Regions from separate parts of the Homo sapiens genome. Here region 1 is linked to region 2. Evidence: fine-mapped expression QTL. A gene starts in region 2. The other region holds a variant in brackets. All regions are shown on one strand. Distances are from middle to middle. Region 1 overlaps SKP1 (S-phase kinase associated protein 1). Region 2 holds the start of UBE2B (ubiquitin conjugating enzyme E2 B).

Region 1 (2,915 bases), 220 kb after region 2:
ACATTAAAATATGTGGTAAAACCCAGAAAGCATCCATCATGAATGCAAGATACTTTCAATAAAAAGTAAGTTATATAGTAGGTAGTTAAGTTTGCTTTTGTGGACTTAAATGTGTCTCTTCACTTAAATGGGTTGAATGTGTATATATTTGTTCAGCTTGAAAAGACTTAGTTTATATCCTAGCTCACTGGAGGCTGCTGACATAACCATAACTTCTGTCCCTTCTAATTGTCATTTATATGCCTAACTGGAGCTAGTACTTTAATTCTTAACACAAAATTACTCTGCCATTGTTTCCAGCTTCCCTCCTACAATAGAATGAAGTTTTTTTGATGGCTTGAGATGGCTCACAAATTTTGATTTTTTTTTCTTCCTTGTGCTCCCTTTTTTTCTCCTTGCTTTTCCAGTTAACATCTATATTCACATGTAATCTTGTTTTCTCTTCACATTCACTGAGTTGTTCAGGCTCAGATCATCCCTTGACAGTAGTTTGCCTTCATCTCACCTTTCATTTGTCCCAAATTCACCTTATTTAATAAAGTCCCATATGTTGTCTCACTTAATTCCAATTTGTTGTCTGTACCAGAGATAGGAAACTATAATGTGTGGGTCAAATCAGGCCCATAGCCTGTTTTTGTAGTCTTTGAGCTAAAAATGGTTTTTACGTTGTAAAGAGTTATTTAAAATTCTCTCTCTCTCTCTCTCTCTCTCTCAGGAGATAAGCTTGTTTTCTGTTTGTCCTGGTTTTAGTGGGGAAGGTAGCGGTGTATAGTCCTAGCTGAATTGTCTCATCTACCAATTCCTGCTATTATAAGATCAACTTCTGCAAAAACCTTATCCACCTCAAGTATCCTTAGCAGCTGGGCATGGTGGCTTATGCCTGTAATCTCAACATTTTGGGAGGACAAGACAGGAGGATCGTTTGAGCCCAGGAGTTCAAGACCAGCCTGGGCAACACAGAAAGTCCCTGTCTCTCCAAAAAAAAAAAAAAAAATTAGCAGTCATATGGTGCATGCCTATAATCCCAACTACTTGAGAGGCTGAGGTGGGAAGATGGCTTGAGCCTGAGAGGTCGAGGCTGCAGTGAGCTGGCATTGCACCACTGCACTCCAGTCTAGGCAATAGAGCGAGACCTTGTCTCAAAAACAAACCAGAAGTATCCTTAGCAGTATTATGACAAACAAATCTTCACTGAAGGTCCAGGATTACTGCCATATGCCATGTTTAACTTGTAAAGGAAGTATCACCTTCTAAGAAACTGGAGCTTGTTATTACCACTTGATCTGTATAATACTCAGCAGTAGTTAGAATTATATGAGTAAATAACGTCACTATCCGTATTTAAAGGATAATGAGATCTTTCAGAAAGATTGGATGGACAGACA[AT/T]ATAGTAGTAATTTAAATTTTTGTTTCCTGACTTTCTGTAGTCCCTAAACAAACAACAAAAAATCCTAGTAATCTTAAACTTTTACATTAATAGAGATCCAAGAGAAAATAAGCCATTTTTCACCATTGTGGACCCAAATAAATCATAGACATGGTATTAAGAAGCCCTTTTCAGTCTGGTTGCAGTATTATTTTCCTACCTTTCTTTTTCCTGTTCCCTGCTGTATGCCCACTATTCCTTTAATATATCTACTAGAACTTTTCTAGGCTTTCACCTGGAGTGAGTGGTCCTTTCTCATTATCACAGTAGCCAAACCTCAGTCTTCAAAACTCCACTCATTTCTGGCTACTCTCTTACTTCCCAACTATTCTTCTAAACTAATATTGTGGCATTAAGTCATACCTTGAGGCTGGAGTTTTAGTGTCTTCATGGCCTTGGGCAAGTTGGAAATAGGTACTACGGTTTTATAGATCTAGTGCAGTCTGCTTTATATTAGTTCCAGAACTTCATTGGAAGTCACTTGACAGCAGGATTTAACTTGTATTTAGCAGCACTACTCCATGAATTTCAGTATAAGTAACAGAAGTGAAAAGTCCTTGTGAAATGCAGGTACAGGGCATAATGAAAACAAGAAGAGTAGTTTTAATGCATGAGAGGGGAGAGCTTGATAATAGCTGATAATAGCCTTGGTTTGGAGAGTGGTTACTGATGAATTATGAAGACTTTCTCTAATTACTGTTATAGTAGTAAAGGAAAGAAAACCCTTGTTGATAAAGTAAACTTAGGGATTAATTAGGAAATGCCTTTTATTTCACCAGGAAAGAGAATGAGAGGAAGAAGGTATTTGGCAGATTTGGGTGATTGAAGGATGTTTGTCGGTTTCCTCTGTAAACAACATGCTGCTTTCTGCAGTGTGCTGCTTTTAATGATGAAGTCCTTTCAAGGACTCCATGGCAGTCCTTTGGCTTCTCACCTTTTCATTGATTATGTCACTTGTGATCTAAAAGTAAACCAAAACCTTCCTGAATGTTAGCTTATTATTTTCTCCTTAACATTGTCATAGGCTAAAGATGTGCCCCCTCAAATTCTAATAATTTTTTTTTTTTTTTTTTTTTTTTTGAGACAGAGTCTCACTCTGTCGCCCAGACTGGAATGCAGTGGTGCGATCTCAGCTCACTGCAACCTCCGCCTCCTGGGTTCAAGTGATTCTCCTGCCTCAGCCTCCCGAGTAGCTGGGATTACAGGCACATGCCACCATGCCTGGCTAATTTTTTTGTGTTTTTATTAGAGATGGAGTTTTACCATATTGGCCAGGCTGGTCTTGAACTCCTGACCTTGTGATCCGCCCGCCTTAGCCTCCGAAAGTGCTGAGGTTACACGTGTGACCCACCGCACACGGCCCTAATAATTCTTAAGTTGTAGAAGCAAGTTACTCTTTTGAAGTGCCATGTGTTAGCTTGCCTTAATCTATTCTTGGTATACAAAATAGATACTGCTTTACAGTTCTTATATTTTCTCAGAGATTCAC
Region 2 (2,915 bases):
TCAAATACGCTGATTTCAAGCTTTAGAAAGATGACTTTTGCACCAAAAAGGGCATCTCCTTTCAGAGACTGTAACCTCAATTAAAAATGCTACATTATATACACACACAAATACATATGCAGTTGTTTTTCATGGGGCATCATAATTTGCAACTAGTCCACATTAAAAAAATGGTTTTTAGTCAATCTCAAGCAAATTAGGCCACCACGAACAGAAGCCTTAGAAGAACTGCACTGCTTGACGCCTACCTTTAAATGGCTAAGAGAAGCTACGAATGAATTAAATAAGTTGGCCAAATCCAAGTGCCTCACATAGGCTTTATAATAGCTGAGAGGTGACTTCCTGAGCGACAAATCTAAGTTTTTATGCTAGATATTTTGTTCAATTAGGGCAGGTGTCCCCAGAAAAAATGTTAAGAAAAATGTGCAGAGTATCAAAATGATGTTTTCTCACTTATTTTTTCTATGTCTCTAAGTATCCAATAAAAGGTAAACAACGGAATAATCATTTTCTATCTCACAACCCCAATACCTCCTAACAAAACCCTATTTTATTTACCAAAGGAGGCCCAGGGAGTATCAGATTAGCGCCAGTCTAAGGGAAGGCATTTTTCCAGACTCGGGAGGCTATAGATAGGGGCTTTCTTCACCAGCCAGAGCTGAGTTCCAGAAAGCACTGGCAGCCGGGGTGGCCAGCTCTAAGGTCCCAGATCTCTAAGTCAGTTCCCAAGGTCCTTTCAGGCGGGCGGGGACAGAGTCGGGTTTCGGGGGATGGGTTAACCTCCGGGCCTCACGCACTGGACCCCACCCTCAGGGCACAAATGGAAAGGATTGGCAGGAGTCGGGAGAGGGGTTCGCCCCAACACGGCTCCTCGGAGAAGACGGCGGGGCCGTGAAACAAAGCTGACTGGTGCTGCCGGAGAGGAACAAGCTCCCGCAGGAGCTCACTTTGAGGGGACAAGAAGGGGGCGCCGCAGGGTGCAGGGGCGGGCGGATAATGTCTGATCGCCTGGGCGAGACGCCGGGCAGCTGGCCGAAATGGGCAGCAGGGAACCCTAGACCAGTCGATCGACACCGTTTTACTTTTTGTGGGGAGGGGAAGCAGTATCAAAATTTCTTCGGGCGCCAGAACGAGCGGCAAAGCTTATGGGAGTAGGGCCGAGGCTAGGACCCGGCTTCCGCCAGTCCCGCTGGGCCCACAGCCGGCCCTCTGAGGGTCACAAAGGGGAAGGTGTCTGGGATCCACGCCCTGCAGCCCCGCAGCTTTGAGGGGCCGTCATCTAGGCGAAGGTGAAGGCCCTTACCGCTTGAAATCCCGCATGAGCCTCCTCCGGGCCGGGGTCGACATGCTCCGCAGCTGCCCCGCGGTCAGTCTGAAAAAAAAAAAGTCCCGCGCAGCCCCCCCACCCCCCGGCGCGGCGGCCGAATCACTGTGGATCGCCGCCGCCGCCGCCGCCGCCGCCGCCGCCGAGACTGACAAACAACCCTGCAATGACGTCTCCCTCCGCCGCCTCCGGATCCCTCCGCCCTCCGCCGCTACCACAGTGTGAGTGCTGGGGGAGGAGGGGGCGGGACGCGGGAGCGCGCCTTCCCCGAGCCCTTCAGCGGGGCGCGGTTCCCCCTGGGCTTCCTGAAGTAATAGACAAATTTGTGTTCTCTGTGTTCAGACTAGAGGTTGTGGATTCAAAGACCACGAAACAGAAACACTATCCCGTCTCCCTCCCCGTCACTAGTTTAGGCTCGGCGGGGTGGAGAAAGAGGGACGCATCCGGGCCAGAGATTTCAGGGAAAGGAGGTGGGATGATGTAAGATCACGTGACTGCCCGCGGCCTTGTCAACAATCCACCCCTGAGTGGGAGGGGGAGAAGTATCTAGAACCACGTGTCCCTATGACGCGTTTAGAACGGGTCACGTGAGCGCCTCGCCTGGATGTGAGTTTCAGCCAGGTCTGTGAAGCGGGTTTAAGAGGGTGAGGGCGGGATAAACCTTTATTAGTTGTTTTCTGTTTATCACAGGTATAGAGACAACATTACCCAAGAGGTCATGGCAGAATCAACAGCTTGTTTTGTTTTCTTTAAACCGGGACCAAAAATAATTCCCCTCTGGTTGGTTCAGTGGCTTATTAACTCTGGTACTTGGGGCAAGAAGAGTGAGAGGATCGCACGATCTTCTAAGGCAGCCTTGAATACTGAGGCCCACACAACAATCTCCTGAAATGGTTCCTTGAAGCTACCAGATAGTCTTTCTGCTTTGCAGTGGGGTTTCTAGTATTGGAAATTCTGGGCAAATATTAAAGGATGGTGTATTATGCAGTTTTTCCTTTCTGGGTCTGCTTTCAATTGAAGATATGTGTCAGAGTCCGGGGACTTGCCTATGGTGGGGGAGTACCATTGTATTTTTAAGGAATGTGGGGGTGCAGTCTTCCAAGCATATCAATGAGTGGTTGGTTGTCAAAGAAACCTACAAATATGATTCATATTCTGGGGGAGAGCTCCGGCAGACATGAGTGAGGGTTATATATCTAGCCTGAGATAACTTCAGGTTTTCTACACTAGCAAGAAAGGTGCAAATGGGCCAGAAGGGCCCCCCACCACCAGGGGGTTCAGAGGTGTTGACCTCCCAAAGACCTTGAATATTTTCTGTGGTCACCGTCCTTCCCTCTATTGCTTCCAATTCCTACCTTCAGGACTTTGTTATACTAAGGACTCTGAGTACTTTTGTATCCATTTGGGGAACTGTTCAGTTCAACAGGTAAAGGGAGGGTGGAATGAGGACCTTAACATTGCCTCAGCCTTGCCCCTGATTCCATGGAAGCAGAGTTAACTTTTCTGACTTTCCTTGTACCTCTTTCTTCAAACCCTGAATTCCCTCTCTGCTTCCAGTGACTGCCTTGGTGATCAGGTTAGCCAGGCCTAA

What was found.
Region 1: its variant is fine-mapped to the expression of UBE2B in whole blood (INTERVAL, PIP 0.96).

What each region holds. Positions count from the first base shown.
Region 1 is chr5:134,154,039-134,156,953 of GRCh38, reverse strand. SKP1 (S-phase kinase associated protein 1) reads left to right here. Exons shown (of 6, transcript NM_170679.3): 6 at 1-2,915. Among named protein-coding and RNA genes, the nearest start is that of SKP1, 21 kb to the left of the region's middle. The variant AT/T (reference allele first, on the strand shown) is at 1,386.
Region 2 is chr5:134,370,028-134,372,942 of GRCh38, reverse strand. It overlaps UBE2B (ubiquitin conjugating enzyme E2 B), which reads right to left and starts at 1,374. Exons shown (of 6, transcript NM_003337.4): 1 at 1,304-1,374. The coding sequence starts at 1,347. It also overlaps a transcript of CDKL3 not described here. RefSeq lists enhancers at 1,042-1,141, 2,082-2,151, 1,660-2,255 and a silencer at 1,562-1,611.